Linked DNA regions of Homo sapiens: region 2 is linked to region 1. The links come from fine-mapping of genetic effects on gene expression. A gene starts in region 1. The other region holds a variant in brackets. All regions are shown on one strand. Distances are between the middles of the regions. Region 1 holds the start of SAV1 (salvador family WW domain containing protein 1). Region 2 overlaps NIN (ninein).

Region 1 (15,737 bases):
CTGATTTCAGTAGGAATGGCACCGTGTTTGAGAGGCCGAAGAAGAAACTGGAGCCAGCAAACAAGACATAGGACTTATTGAGGGGACTCATATACAGGGTAGTCCAGTGGCAGTGGGCTGGACAGGAGAACCACTGCCCTCTGTAAAAAGTGCGCAGTTTATGTAGCATTTTCCCTTAGCACCCTCCTCCTAACAACCTCCACCTGACAAGCTTCATTTAACCCAAAACAAAGGACCTCAATCCTCCTGGAAGGCCTGTCTTCCATGGGATGGGCTGGGGATTCAGATGTTCCTCATAGATAAGGAATGAATCTCTGGGTTGGCTACTCCCAAATTCCTTAGCTTGGAATTTCGAACACACATTCTTCTGAGATCATAGGGTCATTCTCAGGGTATGTTTAAGTTATTGCTGTGAAGTGAGTCTGCCATATACTTCTCAATTTTCTCTGTTAACTCTTTCTGGAACTTAAGTTTTCAGGATATTGGGCCTTTTGTATAAAGCCTATTTCTCTTTTCTGTTCTTTGAGATTTCCCATCTCAGTCTTTTTGTTCTGTTTTCTGGGAGATTTGCTCAACTTTATCTTCCTAACTTTGTTCTGAAAATTCTACTTTGGCAACCCCTATCTTTAATTTCCAACAGCTCTTTATTGTTCTGATCTGTTTCTTTTTCATAGCTTCCTATTGTTTTATGAGTGCAATATCTTCTTGCAAATCATCCTGTTGATAGTAATAAGCATTGTTGCTTAAAGTACTCATTTATACTCTGAATTACCTGTTTTATTTGTAGTCTATTTTTCTGTTTATGTTGCTATCACTCATGTTGCAAGTTTTCCTGAAATTTCTGGTGATCCTTGATTGCATACTTATATTTTAGAATGATACATTAAAAAAGCAAACACAGGCATGATGGCTCATGCCTCTAATAATCCCAGCACTTTGGGAAGTTGAGGTGGGAGGATCGCTTGAGCCCAGCAGTTTGGCACCAGCCTGGGCAACATGGTGATATCTGGTCTCTACAAAAATGGAAAGATTAGCCAGGTGTGGTGGCATGCACCTGTAGTCCCAGCTACTTGGGAGGCTGAGATAGGACGATGGATTGAGCCCGGGAGGTTGAAGTCGAGATTGCAGTGAGCCGTGATTGTGCCACTGCACTCCAGCATGGGTGACAGAGTGAGACCCTGTCTCAAAAACAAAAACAAAACAAAACAAAAAAGCAAACACTTGTGAGTGTGCTATTTGAGGGATCAGGGCCTACTACCCGGACGCTGCTCTATGAGATTTAGTTCTTTGGTTTGTAGGATATACAAATGTCAGAATGCTAAAATTTTTATCATAGGGCCATTTAATTTATCCAAAAACAGAACCTGAATATCCCTTTTCAAGGGAATAGGTGCCTAACACCTGAAATTCTATGGGGGTGTACGTCTAACTTTCAATTAATGGCTCTTCTCGGCTCCACGTTAGTGTCCTATCTTCCTTAATTAAACCAGGTGCACGTGATCCCAAGCCTCGCCTCGGCCTTTGGCAATATGTGCTTCCATGAGCATCTTAGGCTGTGAACTAAAATACTTCATCCTGCTTCATTGTCTCTTGATCTCCTCCCACCTCTTGCAACCCTATCACTCTTCATCTTCTAGACATTTATTAATGTCACATCTACTGATCTGATGGCCTATTTTGTGTTCTCATAATAATTATAAGTTTATTCTCTCTATATTCTTTCACTGTCAATTAACTGGGGTTCCAGGAGGGAGAGGAGATATATTTATGTGGCCAGTCTCCACATGGAATGGGACATTTCCATTTTTTTCTTAATTTTTTACATTCTGGCTCTACTGAAGAAGTTCTGTTTAAACTTCTTCCTTGAAACTATTTCAAATAGATGTATTAAATTCAATTTTTAACACAATCTACCTGATAGGATCCCATAGATTGAGGGCTTAGTCCCACAAGATTGCCCCACTTCAGATGCCAATCGCAAGCCCCACATTGTGACCTGTGTTTCTGACCCATCAGCTATAAATTGGTGTTCCCACAACTCCCTTCTTGGGTTTTATTAATTTATTAGAGCAGCTCACAGAACTCAGGGAAAAACTGTGTTTACCAGTTTACTAAAAAGAATAGAATAAAGGATACCTGTGAACATCGAGATGGAAGGGACACATAGGGAGAGGTATGGGAAAAGGGGCATGGAGCTTCCATGCCCTCCCTAGGAATGGCAGCTTCCAGGAACCTGTGTGTTTAGCCATCCAGAAACTCTCAAAAGCCAGTCATTTGTGGTTTTATGGAAGCTCCATTATGTAGAAATGACTTAATACATCATTGGCTATTGGTGGTCAACTTAACCTTCAGCCCCTCTCCCGTCCCAGAAGGTTGGTGGTGGGGCTGAAAGTCCCCACCCTCTAATCCTACTTTGGTCTTTCTTGGGTGACCAGCCCTTATTCTGAAGCTATCTAGCCACCAGTCATCTCATTAGCATACAAAAGACACTCTTCTGGAGATTACAAGGGTTTAAGAACTCTATGTCAGGAAACAGATGAAGACCAAATATATATTTCACAACATCACGAAGCCAAGTAAAAACTGATAATTGCAAAGAATAGTTTAAAAATAAAGTTGAAAGTGGCTGAAGATACGGCCCAATTCTGGAAGCAAAATAAAAGTTTCTAGGGTCAGAGAAGTCAAGATACAGAAAGAACCAGAAGGACAGACAACTGAAGTCCGAGGCCAGTGCTGCCAAAAATAGAAGACTCATTTTGGCTTTCTGTCAAGGTTTCAGAGGACCTCTAAGTCTAGGCAATAACAGTACATAAGAACAAAAGCTAAGCTCAGAGACACCGAATCTCCCAGCTTGACTCCTTTTGATTAGAATTGTGATACTAAGCTGGGCGCAGTGGCTCACGCCTGTAATCCCAGCACTTTGGGAGGCCAAAGCGGGTGGATCACGAGGTCAGGAGATCGAGACCATCTTGGCTAACATGGTGAAACACCGTCTCTACTAAAAATACAAAAAAAAAAAAAATTTGCTGGGCACAGTGGCGGGCGCCTGTAGTCCCAGCTACTCGGGAGGCTGAGGTAGGAGAATGGCGTGAACCCGGAAGGCGGAGCTTGCAGTAAACCGAGATCGCGCCACTGCACTCCAGCCTGGGCGAAAGAGCGAGACTCCGTCTCAAAAAAAAAAAAAAAAAAAGAATTGTGATACTAATTCTTTATGTTACTGGGGGGATGATTCATCTTACATAACAGGAGTTTAGGAACCCTACTAAATTGCTAATATTAAGCAATTATATAATATCTTCAGATCTGTGTAGACATTACACACCCTTATCCTTCATAGGAAACAACCAAAGTTTCTGCCTAAAGGACACTTAGGAATTTACCCTCCCATATTTTATTTTTTATTTTTTTGAGACAGAGTCTCACTCTGTTGCTCAGGCTGGAGTGCAGTGGTGCGATCTCAGCCCACTGCAACCTCTGCCTCCCTAGTTCAAGCGATTCTCCTGCCTCAGCCTCCAGAGTAGCTGGGATTACAGGCACACATCACCACACCCCGGTAATTTTTGTATTTTTAGTAGAGATGGGGTTTCACCATGTTGGCCAGGCTGGTCTCAAACTCCTGACCTCAGGTGATCCACCCGCCTTGGCCTCCCAAAGTGCTGGGATTATAGACGCAGGCCATCTCGCCCAGCCCCCTCCCATATTTTAATAGCAAAATTTTGGAGACTTGAAGAGCTATAATTGGCATAATTATTACATCTTCCTGAGACAGATTAAGTTTATCTTGTTATGTGAAGAAGAAGAGTGAGCTGGAGAGTAGACTAGAAGTTCCTCTCCTTTTTTCCTTTTTTTTTTTTTTTTTCTGAGGCGCCATATGTAGGGCTTATTTCCATTTTGGTTGTCTTTCTTGGATAATCTTTCACTGAATAGTTCACCCTTTAAAATTTTACATGCTTCCAACGAGGAAGTCAACATAGCATAAAGACCTTAGCTGTCTTTGAAAGTAACAATCTGGCACGAAATTTTATTTTTATGCTAATCATGATTTTATATAATGCTGATATTTTAATATTTTCTTTAATACTTGAATAAAGAACAAACTTTTTAAAGAAAGAAAATCACCAACATTTCTCTTATCCTATGAAGGTAAGTTTTTATTTTTGCATATTCCCTTCTGCCTACATGGCAGAAAACTCCAGGACTGAAAGACACTTTAGAAATCAAAGGGTTTGGCCGGGCACAGTGGCTCACGCCGGTAATCCCAGCACTTTGGGAGGCCAAGGTGGGTGGATCACGAGGTCAGGAGATCGAGACCATCCTGGCTAACACGGTGAAACCCCGTCTCCACTAAAACTACAAAAAATCAGCCGAGTGTGGTGGCAGGCGCCTGTAGTCCCAGCTACTAGGGAGGCTGAGGCAGGAGAATGGCCTGAACCCGGGAAGCGGAGCTTGCAGTGAGCCGAGATCATGCCACTGCACTCCAGCCTGGGCGACAGAGCAAGACTTTGTCTCAAAAAAAAAAAAAAAAAAAAAACAAATGGTTCACTTTCTTCATTTTCAGATGAGACAACTAAGAACTCAGAATGCTATGAGGTTAGCCCAGGGTCATACCTTATAGGCTCCACTAAAATAAATTTTAATACTAAATTAATTTTTTAAAAAAGTTGTTAAAACATGAGAAGCTCCCTAATTGCCAGTTTTCTCCACTAAGAATGTAACTGTAAGGGGAAAAAAAAAATCTCTATTATGGAATGCAGTATTAGCATTATTGAAGGCAATGTCTGGAGAATTACAGCTCCGTAGAACTACAGCAAATCTGAATTCCTTAATAAAAATTCTCAGAAGTCAAGGAATTTCTAGAAAACAAACATGAATTCAAAGCTTTTAGATTTAAGGATTCAAATTCAAAGTTCACATATTTGTTGTGCATTGCTATAGCTAATGCTGCCTGCACATTGTTGATTCTGGAATGTACCCTCCTTGATAAAAAGGCAAATTAGTTGTCTTAAATAGAGCACCTAATTAAGGCTTTCTCTCTGCTATAATCCACAGAAATTAAATAGCATTGTAAAAGGGAGTACTCTCTAAGGAACACAGACGGCTTTCAAAACAACTGTTAGAAACAGTCTGGACTCACATTAGTGGGATTCTGAATGTTCCGTAGCAGTAAAGAGCCCCAAACGGAAATTGAGGCTGGCCTGGTGGCTCACGCCTACAATTGCAGCACTTTGGGAGGCCGAGGCGGGCAGATCACTTGAGGCCAGGAGTTCGGGACCAGCCTGGCCAACATGATGAAATCCAGTCTCTACTAAAAATACAAAAAATAGCCAGGTGTGGTGGCGGGCGCTTGTAATCCTAGCTAGTCAGGAGGCCAAGGTAGGAGGATCGCTTGAACCTGAGAGGCAGCAGTTGCAGTGAGCTGAGATAGTGCTACTGCACTCCTGCCTGAGGGATAGAGCAAGACTCTGCCTCAGGGGGGAAAAAAAGGGAATTGAAAACTCCAGTTCTGATGCTATTCTGTCATTAACCAGGAATGTAATCTGAGACAAAACACTTAATTTTTCTCGTTCCTTTTTGATGTTGATGAGGTGAGCCTAGGCAATCTCAGAATTCTTTTTCAACTATAAAATTCTAGGATTCTTTCCTCCGCACATGTGAAAGGTGTCCCCGTACTTCAGGCTCTGGGAAAACTCCAGGTGTGAAGAGTTGCCTTTATTAACAAGATGCTAATATCCTTTTGTCCTTCTCTGAGGTAAGCCTTAGGCAGAAACCTGGCACTTCTTTGGCTCCCCCTTCCTCCTTCAGCTCCCGCCTTCATACCCTGATGTGTAACAAAACCCCATTGTGCTCTCACTTAAGTTTCATCACTCTTTCTTCTCCCTGCACACTATCAACGCTTTAGGACTCGTCCTTATTTCTGAACCACAGGAACAAGTAACTGTTTTTCTAATGTTTCTCTCAGAGTACACTCTGCTTCTAGTGAGTTCCAATTCTGTTTATTAAGATTTTCATACCCATGGCAGTGATTGATACTCCCACACTCCATATTCAATGTCAGCAAATTTGGTTGGCTTTCTTTAAAATATGTCTAAAATATGTCCACTTACCTCTCCACCTATTATTGCCTGGGTCCAAGCCAGCAATAACTTCTGACTGATCTCCCTTTTGCCCTTAGCTCCATTGTCTACTCTCCACACAGCATCCAAAGCAGTCCTATGAAAACATTAACTCAGATCATGTCACTCCTCTGCTCAAAGTAACATTCCTTACAATGGCCTACAAAGCCCTAGGTGCCGTGGCTATTGTTACTCTCTAACTGCATTCCCCATTCGTCTCCCCGTCTTTTCCAGTACATAAACCCTCTTACTGTTCCTCCAATCTGCCAGGAACATGGCCACTTGCAGCGACTTTGCACTTGCTGTTCTTTCTGCCTGGAATATTGTTCCTCCAGTTAGCTGCATGGCCAATTTCCTCACTCTGTCACTTAACTCCAATGTCACCTCCTCATGAGCCTTCTCTGGTCCCTCTATTACCCTCTCAAAAATTGTGAGTCCTCTCTTATTTTCACTTCATCACTTATCACTATCTAACATAGTATGTTTTGCTTATTTTTTGTCATTTTTTTCTCTTTCCCATGACAGTAGGGATTTTTGTCTGTTTTGCTTATTGCTCTATCACAAACGACTAGCGCAGTGGGTAATGAGTATTTCCTGGTTAATGAATGAATTGTGGGAGATCTGCACCAAGGGAACATATGGAGACAGACACTAGATCAAATGTCTCCTTTGTTTGCTCATGGTAAAACATTTGACCATCTTCTTAATCTTACGTGGTAAAAAATTCCATGTCTTTTGTTAATTGTGATATATGTCTTAGATCTCTTGTGAGATGTTTTAGATCTCAGGGAAAGCATTCCTCATTATTAAAGCATTAATTTGGTCACTAGGGGATGAATCCAATCTTATTTTCCAAATGTTATCCTGTACATTTGGCAGTCTTGCTAAGTTATATAGAAGGAAGTAGAGTCTATTATTTTAGATAGAAAATTCCCGGTCCCGACTCGCAGTGGTCAAAGTCTTCAAAATTCTAAGATCATAACACATAACGTCAGGAGGAAATATGTGGCTATTAATCATACTAATGATAGTGATGATGCAATAAAATAATTGTAATATGCTAACACCAATTGTATCTTAAAAAGAGGTACTGGAAATTCCATCTTGCATTCTTCCGTTTTTTCCTGTTATAGAAAAACGCACTCCCTGATACTCAGTAGAGGATCAACTTATTTCTAGTTAATCAGCATGAACGTTTCCAGCAGAATAGATGCTTTGGTGTAGCACTTGCCTGGGAGTCATGGTTAGCATTCCGCATTTTTTAGAGAGCTGAATTCAGCAGCCTAGGAAACATTAGGAAGAACACCTTCAAACAGGGAACAACGTCTTGGGGGGAAAGAGAGTCACTGCCTCCGCTAGGGATCCCGAGGGGGTACAAAAGCAACAACAATAAAAACTCGTGGAGAGTAGGTTCCACGACATGCGCATGCGACGAACTCCCGCACTCAGCGGGGCAGGTTTCGTCCTTCATCTTCTCAGTCGGCAGGACCTGCTTCTCGCTGAGGATGAGTGAGGACAGCCGCAGCTCGGCGGGGACGGCCCGGTAGCCTAGAGCGCCGGCACCCGAGTCCCGCCGCCGGAGCCGCGCCTGGAGCCGCGGTGGGGGAGGGGCAGCGGCGGCCCGCGCTGCGTCGAGCTTCCCAGAATTCCCAGCGGCCGCGGGGAAAGTTTACGGGATGTAGGCGGCGGCGGCGGTAGTGGTAGCGGTTATTCGGCGGCCCGCGGCGGACCATGGCCCTGGCCCTGGCCCGGCGTCGCTGGGCTTTCCTCACGGCGTCCCCGAGCAGCGTCGCAGAGCGGGCCGACTTCCGGGAAGGAACTGACCAGCGACTGAGCGGCGGCCGGCGCGCTTAGCGCCCTGAACATGCGGCAGTCCCTGCGGGCGACCCCGGGCTCCGGACAGGCGGCGGCGGAGGCGGCGGCTCGGGAGGGAAGGAGGCGGCGGCGCCGGCGGAGGTGGCGGCGGAGACGGCCGGCGCCCGGCGCGGAGCCCTAGGGAGGCAGTTCAGCGCGGCCTCGGGCCTCGTCGAGAAGGATGCTGTCCCGAAAGAAAACCAAAAACGAAGTGTCCAAGCCGGCCGAGGTGCAGGGGAAGTACGTGAAGAAGGAGACGTCGCCTCTGCTTCGGAGTGAGTGTCAGGCGGGGCGTGCCCACACCTGGCCCAGGCGGCCAGGTGCTCCGGGGACCCTGGCGGGGGCGCCGGCGGGTCTCCAGGGCTTCTCCTTCGTCCTTGGTCGCGTGAAATACTGGTTTTGAGATTTTCTTGTGTCTGAAGTGGTATTCGTTGATTGAAAGCCCATAAGAGTAAGAAACTTGGGTTAGTCCCCCCCGCGCCTAACCCCCCCAAGAGCACCCCCTAAAAATAACAGACTTCCTCGCCCCACCAGGCAGAGTTGTTGGTTTTGATTACTGGAAGAGAGAGTAGGAAACATTTAAATTGCTTATCACCTAATGCTATAGGAGTAAAAGTAATTAGACAGGGACACTTTTTACTCTTTTAGATGCGTCGAGATGTGCGTCATGTTTGCAAACATTGCGGGTGTCTCTCGACTGTGCTGCAAGTTGTGCGAACTCTGGGGCAGAATTCCTTAGTCCTGCTGCCGGATGCAGACTTGAGAAGGTGAAAAGCATACCGTCGTTCTTGTAGCCGCCACCCAAAGCCTCATCACTCTTACACAGCAGAGCAGAGAGCCAAAAGCCTTTGTATTTGGCTATATTCGTGAGATTCCAAGAAGGCAACTCAAAATAATTTCTATCGTATTAGAGAACCCCCCCCTCGAAAAGTTTTTTTTTTTAATAGGGTAGATCCCACTCCCAATCCCCACCTCCGGTCCCCCGCTGCTTTTCTTCTTAATGTAAGTATTTGATTTTTGAGTTGAATCTCTTGAATTTTTAATTCTTGTGTGTTCAGGACATTTGTGAGGCATGGAGCTGGTATTTTGGTGCTCTTACTGCGCCCTGGGCCCTTTGCTTAAGTTTCCTTCTTGGAAGCTGGTAGTAACCTTGTGACTTAAGTATTACCTCATATTGTAATTGGGAAAGTTAGGTTTCTAGTATTTGCCCAAGATCACACAGATGGGAGAGCATGTTTTTCCATCATAACCACATTGTCAGCCTTCCAGATTTATGGTGGTACTTGCAATACTTTCAACAAAATATATGTCAGTTGAGTACATCAGTAACTCGAAACTTGATTTTTAAGTTGTTTTTTTTTTTTTTTAACAACTTGATTTTCAGTCACACATGCAGTTAGGTTTCTGGCTGTTTTTAAGTGATAGCTTGCTGTTTGCTGCAAATAAAGTTTATCAGACATTACTTGAAATCGTGAATTATGTTTGTCACACTTTTTATTATACTTTAAGTTCTGGGGTACATGTGTAGAACGTGCAGTTTTGTTAATGTTTGTCACAGTTAAGCAAATAACTTTTGATCTACTTTGTTTTGTTGTCGTTACATCAAGTGTTGAGCCTTATTTATTCAGATATTTGTTTCTGTCCAGTGTTAGTTTCTGAAGCTTATTAATATGAGTGTCTCCAATATTGTTTACTTGATGAATAATAAGAGGGTCTGCATATTCAGGTTTTTGTCTTGTTTTAAAGGTATTTGCTTTCTAACTGGGAATGTCTTAAGCTGTTTTCAAGTTTCGTGTTTAAAAGTACTGTATCCTAAAAGCTGTTGTTCTATTATCTACTATTTTGAATTATAATTACATAGTTTCAGGCTTGGTTTTTTGAGCCACTTCTACATTTGTGTGCTTCTTTGAAATGAGAGCTTTTTATTTTCAATTTTCATACATAAATTTTTGGCTTTCTAGCTTTTGATTACTGTGCTAGTGCTAGGTAATTCCAAGAGAAGAAAGAGCTACTAATTTTTTAATTTTTAAAGGAATCCACTTTTACATATTTGGGAGTAGCATTAAGTTCTATTTTTGAAATTGTGTTTGCTTCAAGAAGGATTTTTGGCAGTTTCTAAAATGAAGTGAGAACAACAAAATAAACTACTTAACTAGAAACTATCAATTTGTTATATTATTTCCTATTTTTATACATTAATTCATGAGCATTTCATTAATGTGTAGTTCATAGATAAGATTATTGATATTTTATCATATTATGTATGGTAGTATGCAGAATACATTTTATTCTAGCTGAGCTTTTACGCATAGTCCATTAATGCAAGTTATATAAATTCATTTGATTGGGAAAATATTAATCTTCCTCAATTTAAAATGCCCAAGTACCATCCTAAACCAAAATTTAAAATTGTGTTTTCTTAAGTTGACTGACATTTTGATTTTGGGGTGGTAGACATAAATGAACAAATTTCGAAAACTTTTGTTACTTAATGATGAAAGGGTAATTTTATCCTTTGTTTTATTGTAGATCTTATGCCTTCATTCATCCGGCATGGTCCAACAATTCCAAGACGAACTGATATCTGTCTTCCAGATTCAAGCCCTAATGCCTTTTCAACTTCTGGAGATGTAGTTTCAAGAAACCAGAGTTTCCTTAGAACTCCAATTCAAAGAACACCTCATGAAATAATGAGAAGAGAAAGCAACAGATTATCTGCACCTTCTTATCTTGCCAGAAGTCTAGCAGATGTCCCTAGAGAGTATGGTTCTTCTCAGTCATTTGTAACGGAAGTTAGTTTTGCTGTTGAAAATGGAGACTCTGGTTCCCGATATTATTATTCAGACAATTTTTTTGATGGTCAGAGAAAGCGGCCACTTGGAGATCGTGCACATGAAGACTACAGATATTATGAATACAACCATGATCTCTTCCAAAGAATGCCACAGAATCAGGGGAGGCATGCTTCAGGTAGCTTAACATTATAAATAATATAGTAGTTTATATTTATTGACATGTCAATTAAAAAGATGTTCTTTTCTAGATTTTCTTGGGACACGAACAAATACTACTAGCGAAATGTTTTTCCACTTTGCTCATCCTGCTTAAGCCTGTGTGCAAATAGTTGTTAATCTACACTGAATGGAAGAGTCCTTGTGACCATTTATTTTATTAACTCATGTTATGTAAACTTGGTATTTATCTCAAGGCTGTCTAGACTCTTAATGCTGTGACCCTTGAAAACCTAGAGAATTTAATGTCTCCAGTTGGGCTGAATTTAGGTTTAGGTTTGGTAGAATAATGGGAAGGGTAAGTCTTCAGAGACACTTGACGGAGTCCTCAGAGACACTTGACAAACTTGGGAAAGGAAAGAAGAGTAGGAACAACTGGGCATGCTCAGTGATACCCTGAGCAACCACATTACTTCGCTAGATCCTGCCCTTTTTCTCAACAAAAAGTAGTTCAAGAATTATTTCCTGAGTTGATCAAAAAGACTTATTGTCATATGGTTAATTATGTGTTGAGCATGTCTTTTTATTATTTTTGTAACAGACAAAAAAAATTACCATATAATTTAAGAAAAGAAGGTACTTTCCATATCTCCTGAGTTGGAGATACTTCTGAAAGGAGCAGAAGAGATGGGAGAAATGTACAATTCTACTTTATTCCTGAAGTCCTGGTTTTACCAGATAAAATGAAGTGAGATGAAAATTAAACTTTCTTGTCTGATTTTTTTTTTCTACCAAGTTATAGACTTTAAATTTTGGCAGGATAAAAATAAAATGTGAGACAGATTTACTTTTTGGCTCACATAACTTCAAATAAGGCGACTTAAAAATGGTTTGGAGCATTAGTATTTTGACTGTAGAAAAAATTTATTCATTTAATATTAACTGTTTATGTGTCTAGCGTTTTCCTTGGGTCTGTTGGTCTCTGCTTTCTGGTACCTTATTTGTCTAGTACCTTATTTGTGGAAACAAAACCAATCTATACACAATGGTCACAGAAAAATTGTTATACTTTGTGATACTAACTGTAAGTGCAACAGGGAATCAGAAGAGAGATGAGTATAGGCTGGAATACTTAAAGAGATGATTCATGGAAGAGGTAGGACTTGGAGTGGGCCTTGAGCTTGGCCTTTAGATTAACAAGGGCCAGAAGAAGGACATTTTACGTGGAAAATTGGGAATAGCACAATGAAAACAGAGTAGGCATGGTTTAAATATAAGGAACAGTGTAGTTCTGCCTGGTTTGAAGAAATAAGATGTAAGGTTGAGTGGAGATTTGTGGTTCAACAATAGGCTTAGATTTGAGTCAAGTGGAAGCTCTTGCACATTTCGGAAAGACAAGTGATTTTATGAAAGCAGTGTTTAAAGATTAGTTTTGTACTAGAATTAAGGGTAGATTCCTAGAGAAAAGAGGATTGCAGGTACCAGTGGGTACCAGTGGTAATAGGAAAACGCAAATCTAGGATGCTTTTAAAGGAAAAATGAGAATTAGAGTTTAGGAGAAAGCAGATCACTGAAGTTTTAAAAATAATGTGGAATAGTTGGTAAGAACAACTTATTTTATGAAAGCTGACATCAGAGTCTCACTGGAACATTGTAGAGGAGAGGTTTTCTAGGCATGTGGAAATGCAGTAAGAGGCATGGGTAAAAGCACCTTTTAGTTTTTAAGGAATTAGGTTAAAGAATTAGCTGCATGCTTGAGTGTTTATTTTGGTTATTTCTGATATGCAGTTCTGAACCTCAGGAATAATTTGTTATCTAACTAAAATAGTAAGTTTTAAAAATAAAGCTCATTTATATTTTCTTCTAGAATAATAACTGCTTATTACAGGAAATTTGCAAAATGCAGAAACGTAAAGGCAAAGTACCTGTCCACCAGAGATCCTCTTAGTATGTTATTTTCTTCATCTTTTTCCATGCCAAATTCTTTTTTTACATGGATGTGATTATATAATATTTTGTACAGTTTTCTGTTCTTTTTACTTGAATGATTTTCTTCATGTTGTATACTTTTTATGAGTGGTTTTAATGACTGCGTAATCTTCCATTTGGTGCATATTCAGTGGTTAATGAGGACTTGACCTATACTTCAGAAATTTGGAAAGAGGAGAAGTGGGACACGCCCACATTAATGGGACTTGGCCACTAACGGGGTTTGAAGGACAAAGGAGAGGGAAGAGTCAGATAGGATTAGCACAGCACATGACTGCCTAAGAGATGCTCACAAAAATAAATGGCTGAATGAGTGAATGAACCCAGCGGTTTTAAATCTGGAGGCTTAAGACAGTTTTTGGTAGCTGAGGGAGAACAGAAATAGCTATGTTTACTGTTAATATAGAATATGTGTTATTCTTTGCGTTCACCTTTCCCACCTATATTGTAGACGTCACTGATAGCTTGTAATACTTTTCTACCTGAGGTTTAAGTATGTAAATATGAGGAATTAATAACAAGTTAAACTCTTGTTTTGAAAATCTAATTTGCCAAATATAATTGAGGAAATACTATAAGAACTAAATCTCTACTGATCCTCTCTTAGGAGCAATTTGAGATAATTTTTCTAAGTTTAAAGACAGACTTTAAAGCAACTTTCCAGTCACAACTTCAAAATAAAGTACAAGTTAATTGCATACGTTTTCAGATTCAAGTATGTCATTAAAAAAATAAGATTTCAGGCTGGGCACGGTGGCTCACGCCTGTAATCCCAGCACTTTGGGAGGCCAAGGAGGGTGGATCACGAGGTCAGGAGATTGAGGCCATCCTGGCTAACACGGTGAAACCCTGTCTCTACTAAAAATAAAAAAATTAGCCGGGCGTGGTGGCAGGCGCCTGTAGTCCCAGCTACTTGGGAGGCTGAGGCAGGAGAATGGTGTGAACCCGGGAGGCGGAGCTTGCAGTGAGCTGAGATTGCGCCACTGCACTCCAGCCTGGGCAACAGAGTGAGACTCCGTCTCAAAATAAATAAATAAATAAATAAATAACAAGATTTCAAAACACTGATGAAAGAAATTGAAGAGCACAAAAACAAATGGAAAGACATCCCATGCTCATGGGTCAGAAGAATTAACATCATTAAAATGACCATGTTGCTCAAAGTAATCTACAGATTGAATGCAATCCCTATTAAAATACCAGTCATTTTTCACAGAAATAAAACAATCCTAAAATTTCCACAGAACCAACAAGGAGCCCAAATACCCAAAGTAATCCTGAGCAAACCGAACAAAGCTAGAAGCATCACACTACCTGTCTTCGAAATAAGGCTATAGTAACCACATACAAGGTTATAGTAACCACAAATAAGGCTATAGTAACCACAATAATATGGTATTGGTATAGAAAGACACATAGACCAATGGAACAAAAATAGGTAATGCAGAAATAAATCCACATATTTACAGCCAACTGATTTTTTTACAAAAGCACCAAGAACGTGCATTGGGAAAAGGACACTTTCTTCAATAAACGATGCTGGGAAAATTGGATATCCACATGCAGAAGAATGAAATCTGACCCTTGTCTCACCATATGCAAATTCAACTTGAGATGGATTAAAGACTTAAGACCTGAAATTATAAAAGTACTAGAAGAAAATGTAGGGGAAACACTTCAGGACATCGATCTAACAAAGATTTTATGGCTAAGACCTCAAAAGCACAGGCAACAAAAACAAATAGACATATGGGACTATATTAAACCAAAAGGCGTCTGCACAGTAAAGGAAACAACAGAATGAAGAGACAACATATTGAATAGGAGAAAGTGTTTGCAAAAGATTCATCCAGCAAGGGACTAATATCCAGAATATGCAAGGAAGCCAACAGTAAGAAAAACAACCCCATTAAAAAGTGGGCAAAGGACATGAATAGACGTTTCTCAAAAGAAGACATACAAATGGCCAAAAGGTATGTGAAAAAATGTGCAACATCACTAATCGTCAAGGAAATGTAAGTGAAAACCACAGTGAGGTGTCTTACCCCAGTCAGAATGGCTATTGTTAAAAAGACAAAAAAATATACTACTGGTGAGAGTGTGAAGAAAAGGCAACTGTTACAGACTGTTGGTGGGAATGTTACAATAATTAGGACAGGCACTATGAAAAACAGTTTGGAAATTTCTCAGAAAACCGAAAACAGAACTACCATATGATCCGGCAGTTCCACTGCTGGGTATCTATCTAAAGGAAAAGAAATCAGTATATCAAAGAAATACCTGCACTCCCATGTTTATCATGTCATTTGCAGCAGCTTGAATGGAACTGGAGGTCATTATATTAAGGGAAATCAGGCACAGAAAGAGAAGTGTCTCATGTTCTTACTCACATGTGGGAGCGAAACACATTGATTTCATGGAGATAGAATGATAGCAGAGGTTGGGAAGGATGGGAGGGGAGGTAAAGAGAGGTAGGTTAATGGGTCCAAACATAAAGTTAGATGGAATAAGTTCTAAGGTTTGATAGCAGAGTAGGGTAACTACAGTTAACATTTTGAAATAGCTAAAAGAGAGGACTTGAAATGTTCCCAACACATAGAAATGATAAATACTCACGGTGATGGATACCCTAAATACCCTGACTTGATTATTTCATACTCTTTGCATGTATCACAATATCACATGTACCCCATAAACATGTGCAAATAATTATGTATCCAAAAAATGCTATAAAACAATGTTACCACCTGACTGGGCTCTTGTCTGCTATCCGAATAGAGCAGAACACTGAGACAGCAGATACTGTAAAGAAGAAAGAGTTTAATTATTG
Region 2 (15,737 bases), 51 kb before region 1:
TGTTAAACCTTTGCAGTATTATGTCTCTTATTTATTTATGTAGAAATGACAGATCTTGTGAATCAAATTCACAAACATCAGCTTGTTACAAATCATTTTATTTATACCCTTTAAAGAGTGTGGATTTAAGATTCTTGAAAGGATGTAGTCTATATATTTTCTCATTCCATATGTTGTAACTATTTTTAACCAAAGGTACTACTTTTATATATGGAATTTGAAGAAAACCAGGGGTATTTATACTGTTTTGTATAAGATGTACAAATCTTTTTGACAGGAAATTTTTGATGAAACAATAAAATAAATTTTAAGTATATGACTGCCTTTGTTTTTCCTGTTTTTCCACTCTTTTGCCAACTCTATGTTCTTTGAATTATCTTTTTTTTTGTTTTGCTTTGTTGGGCAAATAGACATCATTTTGTATTTATGTTTGAACTTTAAAAAGCTATTATTTTTTTTTAAATATAGGCCTTTTTAAAAGCTAGATGTCCTCCAGGCCCAATTTTTTGTAACTTACTTCCTGCATTAGACCTTTGCCTATTACAATTTTTATCCTCCGGATAGTTACTACATGATTTAGGGTTTCTTTTATGATTAAGTGTTACTACTTAGTATCTAAACAGATGGTAGCCTTTGACTCATGTTTAGTCATTCTGCATGTCTTTTAAAGTATATCTTAACTACCATCAGCTGTTAATACCTTTATGAAATCTGAAATTCCTTATGGGGACATTTTGGTGGACTGCAGAGGGATGGGGGTTGCATTCTAATAAGTCAATTGCATTCTAATCTCTCTAGGTCTCTCTCCTCTCCAAAACTCACTTACTCCTTAACCCATCACCGTTGTGTGAGAACAGGAGATTTTTCATTTTCAATCTGCTCTGATAGTAAACCCATCCTCCAATCCAGATGTGTGCTTCACATTTACAAGTGGGAAACAGATGACTAGAAAAATTGGCAGGAAGAGGCTATTATGAAGAAAGAAACTTACCACCCTCACAGTCATCAGCCACTTCAAAGGAAAAACAGACATGCATATTGCAAGCTGATTGGTTATGTTAGGAAACCCTGAATATATTCAGTGCTTGTTTTGTTGTTGAGAGGCCCATAACATTGCAGAGACCCAGATCACAGATGGGAGGTTGATAGCGATCTTCCAAGTTACCTTGGATGTCCATTTTACTAGAGGTACTCACAGGTATTAAATTATGGGTTTTCAGAATTTTGCTTTATATCAGGGGGATGATGGTAACACAGGTAAGATTCTTTTGATTTTTCAGTCTGATCCTTTATCTGATAGGGTTACTTTTCTGACATATGCAATCCATGCAGGGCTCAAAACTCTCATTTCATGAGAAATCCATCCTTCCTGTTACAAAGGCAAAACATTTGCTGTCCTTTCTCTAGGCATCTTGTGGGGAAAATAAACCAGTGTTTTCAGTGTGACATGATTTTCGAATAATATACTTTTCTTCCCTTCAGGGAAACCAGGAACAACTGGTAACTGTCATGGAGGAACGAATGATAGAAGTTGAACAGAAACTGAAACTAGTGAAAAGGCTTCTTCAAGAGAAAGTGAATCAGCTCAAAGAACAAGTGAGCCTACCCGGTCATCTCTGTTCACCCACCTCACATTCCAGCTTTAACTCCAGTTTTACATCCCTTTATTGCCATTAACTCGTTAACTTATGTTGTCTAATAAAGGCAAATTCTATTATAAATGTCTGTAAGAACTTAGGATTTGCTATCCCTCATATCACCCCAAAAAATACGAACTCTGTATTTTTTCCAAAGCTCTGTTTAAGGCATGTTTGTCCACAATTTAAAAGTGTAAATCTTTGCTAACATGATTTACATGGACCTAAGATTTTAAAGATCAAAAAAAATCTATTGATTCACATAGACCTAAAGCATGTCCATTCACATGCTTTAGGTCCCTGTGAATCAACAGATTTTTCTCTGCCCAAGACAGGAAATATTCCTATTTAAATTGAAAAATGATATTGGTTAAAAAAATAGGGGGATAATAAATGGAACTTTAGCTTTCCTGTTCCCAACAGCTTATGAAAACCTCAACAAGTATCTTATTGCTACAGCTAGACTCCAAAAAGATGTACTTTGAGTTAGAATCTAGACCCCAGATTCCAGGACCACTTAAACAGCCTGCTCCTTTTCACCTGCTGGTGGCAGATGTGGCCTTGGTGTTTAGAAATTAGTTGCGCATCCACTGAAGAGACAAGCAGAAAGTACTACCCTCTGGGAGAGTGTTATAGCCTCTCTGGAAACTGAGATGAACATGTGGGGTGGGGGGCAGAAAATGCCCAACCTAGTTCTTTAGATACTTAAAAGCTAAGAATAACAACCCCAAGAGAGGGTCTGAATTCAGCTGTAGACAGCAACTTTTGGTTGTCCTGTTTCTTAATACACAGGGAAGAAAAAGTCCCATTCAGTGAGCATTTATCCATTCAGTTCTTTACATATTCAAGCATTCAACACATAGTTACTGTGGGCCAGGTCCTGCCGTGGGCACAGGGATACAACAGTGAACAAAGCCCCTGCCCATATAGAATGCACTTACAAGGTGCCAAGCGTTTGGCCAAATGGTAGGTTCAGAAATAAGTGGGATCCGTCCTGTTTTCAGTAGAGGAGAACACAAGAGAAAGACATATTTGATCCAACCCAGGAGTTTAAAGAAAGCTTCCTGAAGACCTCTGAAGCTGCATCTTGAGAGTTAAGATTTCAACTAGTTAAGAAAGTGTGGGGAAGGGTATCCTAGGCTGTGGGAACATCATGGAGTTATGACCACATGTGGGGTGTGGACACGTATAAACACTTCAGCATTGCCAGTTCACACTGTCCTGGGAGAAGCAGGAGGAGAGACTAGAGAGGAAGGGGGAACAGGACAGTAGGCCTCCAGTGCTGAGCCAAGAAAGAAGCTTGATTTTTATTCTGTCGGCAATGAAGAACCATCAAAGTGTTTTTTTAAGGAAAGGAAGAGAGGGAGGGAGGAAAAAAAGTTGTATTCAGGAAGTTCAACAGAAAATATGTTCTGAAATGTTATGTGATGTCTGCCAGTCATCTAGGTTCTGAGCTTGAGAGTGCTGTCATCCTTATCCCTGCCCTTTGAAATGCTAATAGGTTGTTAAGCTACTCTTTAGTTACTCTTTATTCTCATAAACCTTTATACTTTTAGATGCCCTACTTGAAATTGGGTGTAAAATGAACACTTGTAACATGGGAAGGGGGACTGGAAAATATTAACCAGAACAACAATGAAAGTATCCCAAGGCTGCTAACAAGTTTTCCCACCCCAACCTAGACCATATATTCTAACTATAAAGATTAGACTAGACAAGGCCCCATGCAAAACAAAACAAAAACAAAGACAATTCAGGAGAAGTAACTGCCCAAATCTTATCTCTGTTATAATACATGAGCTAAATTTTAAAATAATCAGTGGGTTGTAGTTACGAATGGTAAGTTCAAGTATCTGTTGTTACAAGCAGAGTTAAACAGTCCACACCTGACACCTCAGGAATTTAAGTTATAAAAGTATTTGATATTTTTAAAGAATAAATACAGAAATAATGCCTATTTAGGTAGAAAAAAAACTTTTGGTGCCATCTAATATCAATCTGTTCTATTAGTAACTGACATAAACATCTCATGCAAAGAAATAGCTTAGAAAAAGTAGATTTGTTCCAATGGTGTCCCTGATGCCAAGTCTGATGTTAAAGCTATTTTGTAAAATAAAAGAATATAATTAGACGAAGTGATTTGCCTTTATAAAACAACTGTCCTTATGTCAGACCTTAAACTGAAGGTTTAAGAAGAGTTACAGAAATGGAGTCAAGATGTTTCTGGTTCTGTTTCTAGCTCTGCAAGAACACTAAGGCAGACGCAATGGTGAAGGACTTGTATGTTGAAAATGCCCAGTTGTTGAAAGCTCTGGAAGTGACTGAACAGCGACAGAAAACAGCAGAGAAGAAAAATTACCTCCTGGAGGAGAAGATTGCCAGCCTCAGTAATATAGTTAGGAATCTGACACCAGCGCCATTGACTTCTACACCTCCTTTGAGGTCATAGCCAAACCAAAGGGTACACTCATATTTGTGCACTTTACTGAAATAGATGAACATTTCAGTAGGTTCTCAACTTAAAATTAAGCCTAACCTAAAACTGCCAGCAACACAACTGGAGTTTCCATTTATCATAATTAGTTTTTCTAAATAGACCCTTATGGGAGTTTGAAAATAAATACTCACATATTTCACTACTTAAATTATTCCCAAGATTTGAATTTATTTTAAAATTTTAATAGCCACCAAGAATGTGGACATATGAAAATTCAAGAACCTAAAAAATACCAGTTTTGAATGAGTTTTTGTGGTTTTGGTTTTTTTTTTAATTATTACAAATCTATGTGTAAAATCTAGATATTTGAAGTTTGAGATCTGATGAGAATGGTTGTTATAAACTTTATTTTAAAACCAAATTTAGGTGTTCTTACATATTTAAATACTGGAAAGTCATTATAATAGTTTTGGTTCTTTGAATTGGTAGACAATTAGTAGAGTATAATTGGTTAGGAGGCAGGGCTTATTAAGTGGTTATTAACCGCTGACATCAGACAAACCCAAATCTGTAGAATTCTAACCTTCTAACACCTGTGACAGTATTACCACTCTTCTTGTATTATAGATTTAGAACTGATTTACTCAATTGCACTCTTAACTAATGTTAAAAGCTTACTTGCTTTAAACAGCCTTTTCTTCTTTCTCTTAAAAGTTTCATTTGGGGAGCTGGTCTTCTAAGAAACGGATAAAGCCACATAATTAAAGCAGTTGAACTATAGGGAAAGCACTGAACAAACCACTTTGGAGTAAATAGCTACTCTTAGAAAAGAGGGATAAGCAGACCATGTAGGTTTTCTGTCTCTCAAATCTTAGAGTTCATAAATTTACTTGAGGTTGCCTCAAGAACTCAGGGAACAATACTGTAAACTGTCTTCCTGAACTACTGTAGGGCCTCTCTAAGAATTTGAAATGTATAAACCATGTGACCTCATTTATTTGTCTTATATATTTACAGCCATACTAGAATTTTTATTTCTACGTTTTTAGTAAATTTAATATTCTGGGGGAAAAAAGGCCTTGATTTTAGGGTTAAAAACCTGACTTATAGAAGAGTTTATTTAATATAGGTCAAAATTTTCTGTGTTTCTTATTCCTTCTATACCTCAAATCTGATTCTAAGAATTTCTTACTGTGATAATCATTGGCATGCCACCTGAGGTCAAGGAGTGCCAAATAGGACTTTCCACTCATGCTCAAGATCAAAACTTTATAGAACAGTCAACATTTTAGATTCGGTAACCTTTTTTTTCTTCCAATTATAATCTCTGCTAGCCACTTCCGCCAGCAGTTGGTGGAAGACTTACTAGGTGCAGGGCACTTTCCAAGTTCATCACAACAACCTGCTTGTTTTCATGAGACAATAATCCGAAAAGTTCGCTTTGATATATTCCTGGAGGGCCAAGCCCATCTATTTACAAAAGGTGAACAGCAAAATCAAGCACTGCTTTATGGGCAGGAACACAAGAGAAAGCAAACTGCCCAAGAAGTCATCATGTCAGAAACTCAATCTCAACAAAATAATTTCCATCAGGGAACTTCAGGGTTTCTTGGGGGCTTATGAGTCTCACCGGTCAACCCAGGAGGCCTCACTACAAGAGCCTTGACAAGGCACTGTTTTTTGTGGGACTGGGAGTTCACACTGATGAAGCAAACCTTTGAATTTTTGCACAGCTCTTGTCAGAAAGCCCTGAGTTCCCCCTGGATAAAGAGTTAATTTTAATCCTTCCCTATAATTATACTTCAAAATATTTGACATCTGCTATTATGCCTTCTTTAGATCTTTCTTCTGTGGTGCAGACATTTCTAGTAAGTGTTTGACTACTTGTATGGCATTAGCTTTCACAGAAAATTGTTTCACTTAAAACTGTGGATTGGCCTAGGCTAAGGACAAAAATAAACTAAGTACCTGTAGTGTATTTATGTGATATGTGTCAAGTTACTCAAAGTTATTGCTGTTGGAACTGAACAATAATATTTCCCAGATAGCTGGCCTTAGCATGTGATCACGGTTGTTGTATTTTTAATTTTTGTCTTTTACAGTATGAGAGGTGTAGGTTAATTTGTTTATTTCCTATAAATTTGTATTTATGTGTATATAAAATGTACAATGAATGTAAATATGACTTTCTGGAAAGTTTAGACTACATTTAGAATCTCTATTCAAAATCAAAATGCTGCTCAAATGAATTTAACCAACATCTAGGTGCTTAATTTCTCATTTTATCCCACTTATGAGATTGGGAAAAAGATCAATATGAGAAATACCATACAGATACCTTAAATGTATGCATTTGTGCAACAATTTTTGAGAAGGTGAGTGGCAATTTATAATTTAGTTGGCAATTTATAATAGAACTTATAGCTTTTAAAAGACCTTTTAAAGACATTAAATGTAAACTTAAAAATGTTTAGATCTTGTTTCAAACTTTACAATAGCATTCTTCAAAATATTAAGTTATATATTTTATAGGCATTTAGTTGCTTATTAAAAGCACTGATTTTCAAACTTTTTGATTTAAGAACAATTATTTAAGATCGTCTCAGAAGATGGGATCTTCGTTTCAAGAAAAGGGAATCAAGTTTGCCTTTGAGATAATACGTTACACTAAGAAAAGGAAAATGTGGATAGTAAAACCCACCTCTCTCATCCTATTGTACTCTCTTCTGCTTTTTAGAAGCCTGCACTTAAGCTTAGATTTGTGAAGGGAGAGTAGAAGGGGAGAAGTAGAACCACAGTGTTTTATTTATTTTTCTAAAACTCTTACTAAATCCAGATTTTTTAAACTGTTTTAAATGTGAATTCTTCCCAGAAATTTCAATGCATTGCATATTTAGCCTTCGGCATATTTTTCATGAATAGATCATGAAGTCATAGGCTTCCAAGGCATAGGAAGAGATCTTGCAGGTCTAGTATTTTAATAATGCACTATTACCCAGGGCAGATATTATGAGAAACTGTTTCTTCTCTAAGGGTTTATGGCAGACTTTGCTTTTTTAACATGTGAGAAATGAATTTTTTATTTTGTGATTTATGTGATTTCTTTTGCTGAGTGAAGGAAAGGAGAAATTGTTGCTATTGTCAGCATCTTAAAGGTATTTCCAGTCAAGGCAAGGCTAAGTGCTTTGTGATAGTATTAAGCAAGTCATGTTTTGAATGGATTACCTGTAGTGACTCATTGGAATGATATAATTATACAAGTAATGCCAAAAACCAAGTCAAAGCCTAATTAACCAAAGCACTCATTTAAAAATCATCATGTTTGGACCTATCTGGACCTCTCAGCACTGTAAAATAGTTTTGGTTTTGTGGCATATGAATAGCTGTTTAACAAATCAAAGTTAGCTTTTTGCTTCTCAGCTTTTTTGGGCAATACAAGTTAAGTTCTTAATGGGGAGACATTATCATGGCATGACTTAAGGGAACATTGGTTTGTGAAGGAAAAACAGATTATCTAAAGCCATCTCTATGTTTCTGTTCAGATAAAGATTAATGAGTTCTGTGTTTATATCAGCTTTGTATATTTCATCTTAGCCATTCTATCCTAGAAAGATTTTAATGTGAGCTTAAGATGTAAATAAATAATTTTGCAAACATGCCTTTTGTTTTCTATATACCCTGACCTTTTAATAAAGTTTCAGTGTATTTATCATTGGTCTTTAGAATGGTAGCATCAAAATATTTCACTAAACACATTCTACAAATGCAGAATCTCAGCCCGCACTCCAGACCTACTAAATCAGAATCTTCATTTTAAAGAGATTCCCCAAGTGATTTGTATAGGATTTAGAGCATTGGGACTCCATTTCTATTATAGAAGGATGACTTTTACACCAGCCAGTTTGGGGTCCCCGTATACTGTGGCAGTGCATAGTTTACCTGCAGAATCATGACTTAACCTTGGGCAAGGCCCTGTTTGTGATTTTGGGTGCTTCAAAGATGGCTTTATTTCATGTTGCCATCTTTAGGGGTGGCTCAGACTTTCTTAATTGAGCAGCTCATGAATGATGAGATATATGCAGTTGGAAACACAAAAACAACCTAAAA[C/G]CATGTTAATATGCTGAACACTGAAATGTAGAATTGGAAATGTTGGCCAAACTGACCCATCTCACAAGCCTGTTTTATTTCATTTCAAAGCTTTTATACCAACCTCATACTGCCTTTATGTGGCAGGAACTACCATTATTCCCATTTTATGGATGAGAAAATGGAAGCTTAGCAAACTCAAGGCCACACTGCCAGCTAGGTCGGGAACTTGGGACTAGAGGCTCAGGTTTGTCCTGTGTTGCAACACTTCTATCAGTTCCTACTTCTGGCAGAACTATCAGTGTTGGTTCAATGGCAACCATGTACACTGCACTCTGAAGAAAGTACTGTGTAAAACATTCCTGCCATCTGTTTGTGGTGGAGTGGTAAGATTTACACAGAAAAGAAGATTAGAAAATCTACATCCATACAGAAGATAATCAAATGTTGATGGACTCTGTGCTATGAGCACCAAAATAAGATTAGTGTCAAATGGGTAAGGTCCTTAACCTAGCATTCAATATAATTCTGCACTTCATTGAGATTTGTGCAGCCTGTGTGTTTTGTAGTCTTATTTACTGTGCAAAATTATAAGAAGTAATTTTCTAACATGTACTTGATGTCCATTTTCCCCATAATAATAGTTATGTTTTGGCCATAAGACTGGAATTCTCACTTAAATTATGTGAAATGTCTATTATATAATCTCCTGATCAAAAGGTTAAATTTCACCCAGAAGTGCTTTCTATTCTTTGGTTGCTTCACTTGCAAATCAGGAGACATGGCTAGTTTTGACAGACTTTTTTAAAAATTCCATATAAAGTTAAAATTCCAAAGCAGAGAACTGTATAACTAAATCAGTGAAATGTTGTAATGAGTAGGCAACAATGTAAAATAGAGCTGGATACCCTTGTATTAAAATAGTATTTAATTCTGAAAAATGATTACATGGGATATGCTTTACTAGTTAAGGCAAAGTAGACAGCTCTTAACAGTGCTTACAGCCCAGATGAACATTTACCAATCATTTTTCTTTCCTGTTTGGAGGCATATCTGTCTTCAAGATCAAGCAATAAATAAGTACTAACCCTGTGCCAGGTACTAACAGGTTATCTAGTATTTTAATACTGTGAACAATAAAAGGGACTCTTTAAAAAGTGTCAATGTCAAAAAAAAAAAAAGACGTGGCCGTGTTCCAAATTAAAGGAGTCTAAGTAGACATGATAACTAAATGCAGTACCTAATCCTACACTAGATTCTGTGTTGGAGAAGAAAATGTAAAGCAGGTGGTCCCCAGCCTCCTGGGCATTAGGAACCAGGCCACACAGCAGGAGGTGAGCAGCAGGTGACCCAAGCAAAACTTCATCTGTATTTACAGCCATTCCCCGTATTCCCATTAGTGCATGAGCTCTGCCTCCTGTCTTATCAGCCGTGGCATTAGATTCTCATAGGAGCGCAAACCTTATTGTGAACTGCACATGCAAGGGATCTAGGTTACGCACTCCTTAGGAGAATCTAATTAATGCCTGATGATCTGTCACTGTCTCCCATAACCCCCAGATGGGACCGTCTAGTTGCAGGAAAACAAGCTCAGGGCTCCCTCTAAGTCTACATTATGGTGAATTATATAATTATTTCATTATATATTACAATGTAATAATAGAAATAAGATACACAATAAACATAATGCGTTTGAATCATCCCAAAACCATCCGTCCCCTTTCAACCCCGGTCCATGGGAAATTGTCTTCCACAAAACCAGACCCTGGTGCCAAAGAGTTTGGGGGCCACTGCTATAAAGGACATTGAAGTTACTGACAAAATTGGAATAAGGATAGTAGCTTAGAAAACAGTATTATATCAATATTAAATATACTGAAGTTAGTTACTGCATTTATGTAAAAGTATCTTCTACAAAAGTATACACTGGTGTATTTAGGAATAGAGACTATGATATATGCAACTTAAAAAAAAATTGAGACGGAGTCTTGCTCTGTCACCCAGGCTGGAGTGCAGTGGTGCAATCTTGGCTCACTGCAACCTGCGCCTCCCAGGTTCATGCCATTCTCCTGCCTCAGCCTCCCGAGTAGCTGGGACTACAGGCACCCGCCACCACGCCCGGCTATTTTTTTGTATTTTTAGTAGAGACGGGGTTTCACTGTGTTAGCCAGGATGGTGTCGATCTCCTGACCTCGTGATCCACCTGCCTCAGCCTCCCAAAGTGCTGGGATTATAGGCATGAGCCACCATGCCCGACTGATATATGCAACTTATTCTTAAATGATCCAGAAACAAAATTACCCAGGCATGTGCATACACGTGTGAGGGAGAATGTGAGAGAGTGAGAGAAATAAGGCAATGAAGCAAGGATTATTTGTATTATCATTGTAACCCTATTTGTAAGTTTGAAATGATTTCCAGTTAAAATGTTTGAAGTGTTATGGATAAAAAAATGTACTAAGTGTGGTGTCAAGCACCTTAATCTTCCTTGCCCTTCTAGCTACTCTGAAGAATAGATGGTATTCTGAGTAAAAACTCACTAGAAACCATTTATGCTAGCCTAACCATACACCTATAGTTTATTATGAAAAGTTCAGCACTGGCCAGGCACAGTGGCTCACGCCTGTAATCTCAGCACTTTGGGAGGCAGAGGCAGGTGGATCACAAGGTTAGGAGATTTGAGACCATCCTGACTAACACGGTGAAACCCCGTCTCTACTAAAAATACAAAAATCAGCCGGGCATGGTGGCGCGCGCCTGTAATCCCAGCTACTCAGGAGGCTGAGTCAGGAGAATCGCTTGAACCCGGGAGGCGGAGGTGGCAGTGAGCCAAGATCGCACCATTGCACTCCAGCTTGGGTGACAGAATGAGACTCCTTCTCAAAAAAAAAAAAAAAAAAAAAGTACCATATTCAGTGCTGTCTAGTGACAAGTGTGGTCACTCATCTTAGCACTATTTCTCATATCATTCCTTCTTTTGTCCTTGCCCTCTCCCCACCCCTTTGTCCTGATTCCTATGTATTCTCCAGATACTACATGTAAATTTAACAGTGTCCATGCAAGTCACAGTGGGTATAAGCAAGAACCAGAGGTGGATGTGGGCAGATGGTTGATGTGTATGAAAACTGGTAGGGTCAGTGTTTGGGAGTAAAGGCTTTTTTGAAGTGGAGATGCTAAAGTAGATTTGTTGGAAATATTTTTTCTTAAATGATGGTCAAAAAGCAGGATATTTAAAATAAGCAATTCTGAGGTAGTTCACATAATGGTGAAGTGGGTAAAAGAAAAAGATCACAAGACATTAGAAAAAAATCAATGATCTGAAAGTCCAAGATTTGGAATTGCCTTTCCCTGACCCCGCCCCCATCATTTCATCAAATCTGTACTTGCCAAGGTTACCATGAACCTCTTAAAGTTGCCCCACTCCAACCTGCTCTCCCCACACAGCCTCCAAATAGGATTCTTCTAAAATAAGACTGAATGTCACACTACTGTTTAAGAACACCCCATGTCCTCAAGTCTCCATTCTTTTTTAAATCGACAAATAAAAATTGTACATATATATCTTATGCAATGTTTTGAAATACATATACATGGCTGGGCACGGTGGCTCACACCTGTAATCCCAGCACTTTGGGAGGCTGAGGCGGGCGGATCACGAGGTCACGAGATCAAGACCATTCTGGCTAACATGGCGAAACCCCATCTCTACTAAAAATACAAAAAAAAAAAATGAGCGGGGCATGGTGGCAGGCACCTGTAGTCCCAGCTACTCAGGAGGCTGAGGCACAAGAATGGCGTGAACCCGGGAGGCGGAGCTTGCAATGAGCCGAGATCGCACCACTGCACTCCAGCCTGGGCAACAGAGCAAGAGTCCATCTCAAAAAAAAAAAAAAAGAAAAAGAAAAGAAATACATATACATTGTGAAATAGCTAAATTGAGCTAATTAACATATATAACCTCACATTCTTATCACTTTTGTGGTGAGAATACTTAAGATTTTAAATTCTTAAGAATACCTTCTGATTAATTCATAAAGTAATAATTAGTGAATTTAGCCATACTAAACTCTGTTTGGCTTCTCAAAGGGCAACAGTATCTCTTGCTATGTTGTCTATGTATTGAGTAGGAGGAAAAGGCAGGACAAATAGTTGCTTCCAGTTAACCATCCTCCCCTTCCTCCTTAAAAAAAAGAAGGCTGAAATTTGACCATGCATGTTATTACCCAGCTATAAGACTATATTCTCTAGCCTCTTTTGCAGCTAGATGTGACCATGTGACTAGGTTTTGGCCACTGATATGCAGGAGGTCTGGGAAGACTTCTTAAAAGAGGGGATAAGCTGGCATGATGGCATAATCCTATAGTCCCAGCTACTAGGGAGACTGAGGCAGGAATGTCACTTAAGCCCAGGAGTGTGAGACCAGCCTGGGCAGTATAGTGAGATCTTGTCTCTAAAAATTTTTTTTTTTTTTAAATTTAGCCAGACACAGTGCCTGCAGTCCTAGCTACTCAGGAAGCTAAGGTGGGAGGATCCCTTAAGCTCAGGAGTTTGAGGCTGCAGTAGCTATGATTACTACACTGCACTCCTGCCTGGGCAACAGAGCAAGACCCCATCTCCAAAAATAAAGAGGGGGAATACACCTGTTTTTGTTCCTACTGCCTAGAGTGAAGATGATGATTGAAGATCTAGCAACTATGTTGGACCATAAAGATGAGGGCCACCTCCTATAGATGGCAGTGTAGAGAGCTGGAAAGAGCCTAGATCTCTGACAAATTCATTTAGCTATCATGTGAGGCCTCAATTCCTTCTGGACTTTACGAAAAAGGAATAAACTTTTAGTTGTTTAAGTAACTATTATTTTGGATTTTCTTATTATATGCAGCCAAACCTTATCCTAATTGAGACCTAGAATTAGTTGGATATCGGGGAAGGATAAAGTGGTCTTGATTTTCCAGCCTGACCCTAGAGAAGATACAAGATGTATGCAATTCTAGAAAAGATGAAGTCCAAGAAAGGTAGAGTTTAGTTCTACGGTTGGTTTCCTGAAGAGAACAGGGCAATTTTCACGTTTAAACGTGATACATCCACCTGGGGAAAGAAAAAGTGGTAGAATCTTGCGGGGGAGAGAAAGCAGCAGCAGTAGCCTGCAGTGGTGGAAGCTAATTAAATGCAGCAATTTTATTTTTATATTGATGCCCAGGGTGACAGCCCTTGGATTCCACTTTTCAAGCAGTACTAAATTGGCTGTACTTTGACCCTGAAATAAGACTGCGCTTGTCTTCATTGACCAGAGATAACTGGAGAAGTAAACATGTGGTATTGGGGAGAAGAAACTGACATTACTGCTCCTAAGATTTCCAATAGGTGTCTGAAAATGGGGGCTTTAGAAAAGAAGCCACGAGGTTTTTGCCCACAGAACAGTATGATCTGGACATAGGCACAAAGAGTTTTCTACAGATGTTCCCATCTACTTAGGAATAGCGATTCACAGTGGAACCTATAAGAGGAACCCCCAAACAAGTAGTAGACAACAAATGAGTACACCTTTGAAGATTTCCTTTGAAAAGATTATTTAAGCTTCTTTATACTTTCTAGAAGTACAAAGTACAAAATTAACTACAGGGTTTTTATTCCACTCCCTTCCCCTAGTTAGACATCTTTTCTCCACCTTAGCCCACAAGGTGATCACTTCACTGGCTGGTAAATTGTCCATTGCAATCTGTAAATGAGCCAAGATTGCTGTGTGCTTTGCTCAGGCCATTCCTCTCATGGCTATGATACCACTGACAGGGAGATATATAATATATATGTAGAGAGAATATATACATTTGTATATTACAGTATAATATATACATTTCCATATTATATATTTGTATATAATATACAAATTCAAGCCTCATTACTACTGATTTTCCAACAGATCAATCCCAAGCAGTAGGCTATAATTAGAAACAGATTAGACATTCCTTGTTGCAGTCATCTACCTACCTCCTGGCCACCTCCCTCACTGATTTTAGAACTTGGGTCACTGTCTTTTTCTCACTACTACCTCTATCACTACTCTTAGTGCTTTCAATATCTCATATTTGATATATTTGAATTGTGGAGAGAAAGATGAGACCACACTCTACCTTGTCAATAATTTCACTATCTCTGGTCTTTATTTCAAGCATCCAAGACTTTGGACATCCATCTTTCTTCTTCTTCACTTCTAAAATTTGTTTCCTCTATCCATTGATCCCACCACTTTTCCACTGTCCACCACTAAGCCTTACATCTACCTCATGTCCTCATGATCTCTTTACTCAGCTTATGTTCCATGATCTATCACTAGAGCCACTTCCCCTGAAACACAATCACTTTGCTTGCCCCTATCTACCTTTATGACATTTACCTATGGCAATCCCAACTTCCCAACCCTGGTTAAACTAAACTCTTTTCCTATTCTGCAATTACACCAAAGCAACTGAAAATGGCCAGAGAAAGACAGTCAGCTGCTCCAACTGGCCTCACTTTAAATTCATAATCACTGATTTCAACATTGCTTAACAATTCCATTACTTTACAAAAAAAAAAAAAAAAAAAAAAAAGAGACAGGATTTCATAGTCACCCAGACTGGAGTGCAACGCAACAATGTTAGCTCACTACAGCCTCAAACTCCTGGGCTCAAGGGATTTTCTTGCCTCAGCCTCCCCAGTAGCTGGGATTACAGATATGCACCATGACGCCCAGCTTTTAGAAAGTTTCTCACTATTGGCTGGGCATAATAGCTCACCCGTGTAATCCCAGCACTTTGGGAGGCCGAGGCAGGCAGATCACAAGGTCAGGAGTTTGAGACCAGCCTGGCCAATATGGTGAAGCCCCGTCTCTAATAAAAATACTAAAATTTTTAGTGTGGTGTGGTGGCACACGCCTGTAGTCTCAGCTATTTTGGGAGGCTGAGGCAGGAGAATCACTTGAACCTGGGAGGCAGAGGTTGCAGTGAGCAGAGATCGTGCCACTGAGTCCAGCCTGGGCAACAGAGCGAGACTCCATCTCAAAAAGAAAAAAAAAGTTAGCTGGGTGTGGTGGCGGGCGCCTGTAATCCCAGCTACACAGGAGGCTGAGGCAGAAGAACTGCTTGAAACCAGGAGGCAGAGGTTGCAGTGAGCCAAGATCACGCCAGTGCACTTCAGCTTGGGCAAAAGAGCAAGACTCCGTCAGAAAAGAAAAGAAAAAAGAGAAAAGAAAAAAAGAGAAAAGAAAAAAGGAAAGCTTCTCACTATCCAAGATAATGGTTTCATATGTCCTACTCAAATCTCCAATACCTCCAATTCGTCTTTACTCTCAGTAAGTTGATTCTCATAAGAGAACTACTCATTTAACCACCACCAACTCTACCCACTTCCTGCATCTCTTAATAATTTGTAATTAATAAACTGCCCTTGCTCCCTAGGCCAAACGCCTTTGTGAACTAGATCCTGTCCCTTCTCACTTTCTCAGGATGTTTTCTTACAATTAGTATCTTACATTATTAGCTTTCCTTTCTCCATTGTTCCCAGTAGTAACTCTCGTTTTCTTCAGAGTGCTTCAAAGG

What was found. PIP is the estimated chance that this variant, and not a neighbour inherited with it, causes the effect.
Region 2: its variant is fine-mapped to the expression of SAV1 in whole blood (TOPMed, PIP 0.91).

What each region holds. Positions count from the first base shown.
Region 1 is chr14:50,660,379-50,676,115 of GRCh38, reverse strand. SAV1 (salvador family WW domain containing protein 1) reads left to right here and starts at 7,810. Exons shown (of 5, transcript NM_021818.4): 1 at 7,810-8,242; 2 at 10,497-10,937. The coding sequence starts at 8,149. RefSeq lists silencers at 7,573-8,142, 8,253-8,382 and an enhancer at 8,743-8,812.
Region 2 is chr14:50,711,812-50,727,548 of GRCh38, reverse strand. NIN (ninein) reads left to right here. Exons shown (of 31, transcript NM_020921.4): 30 at 1,483-1,596; 31 at 3,877-7,786. The coding sequence ends at 4,086. Among named protein-coding and RNA genes, the nearest start is that of SAV1, 51 kb to the right of the region's middle. The variant C/G (reference allele first, on the strand shown) is at 8,182.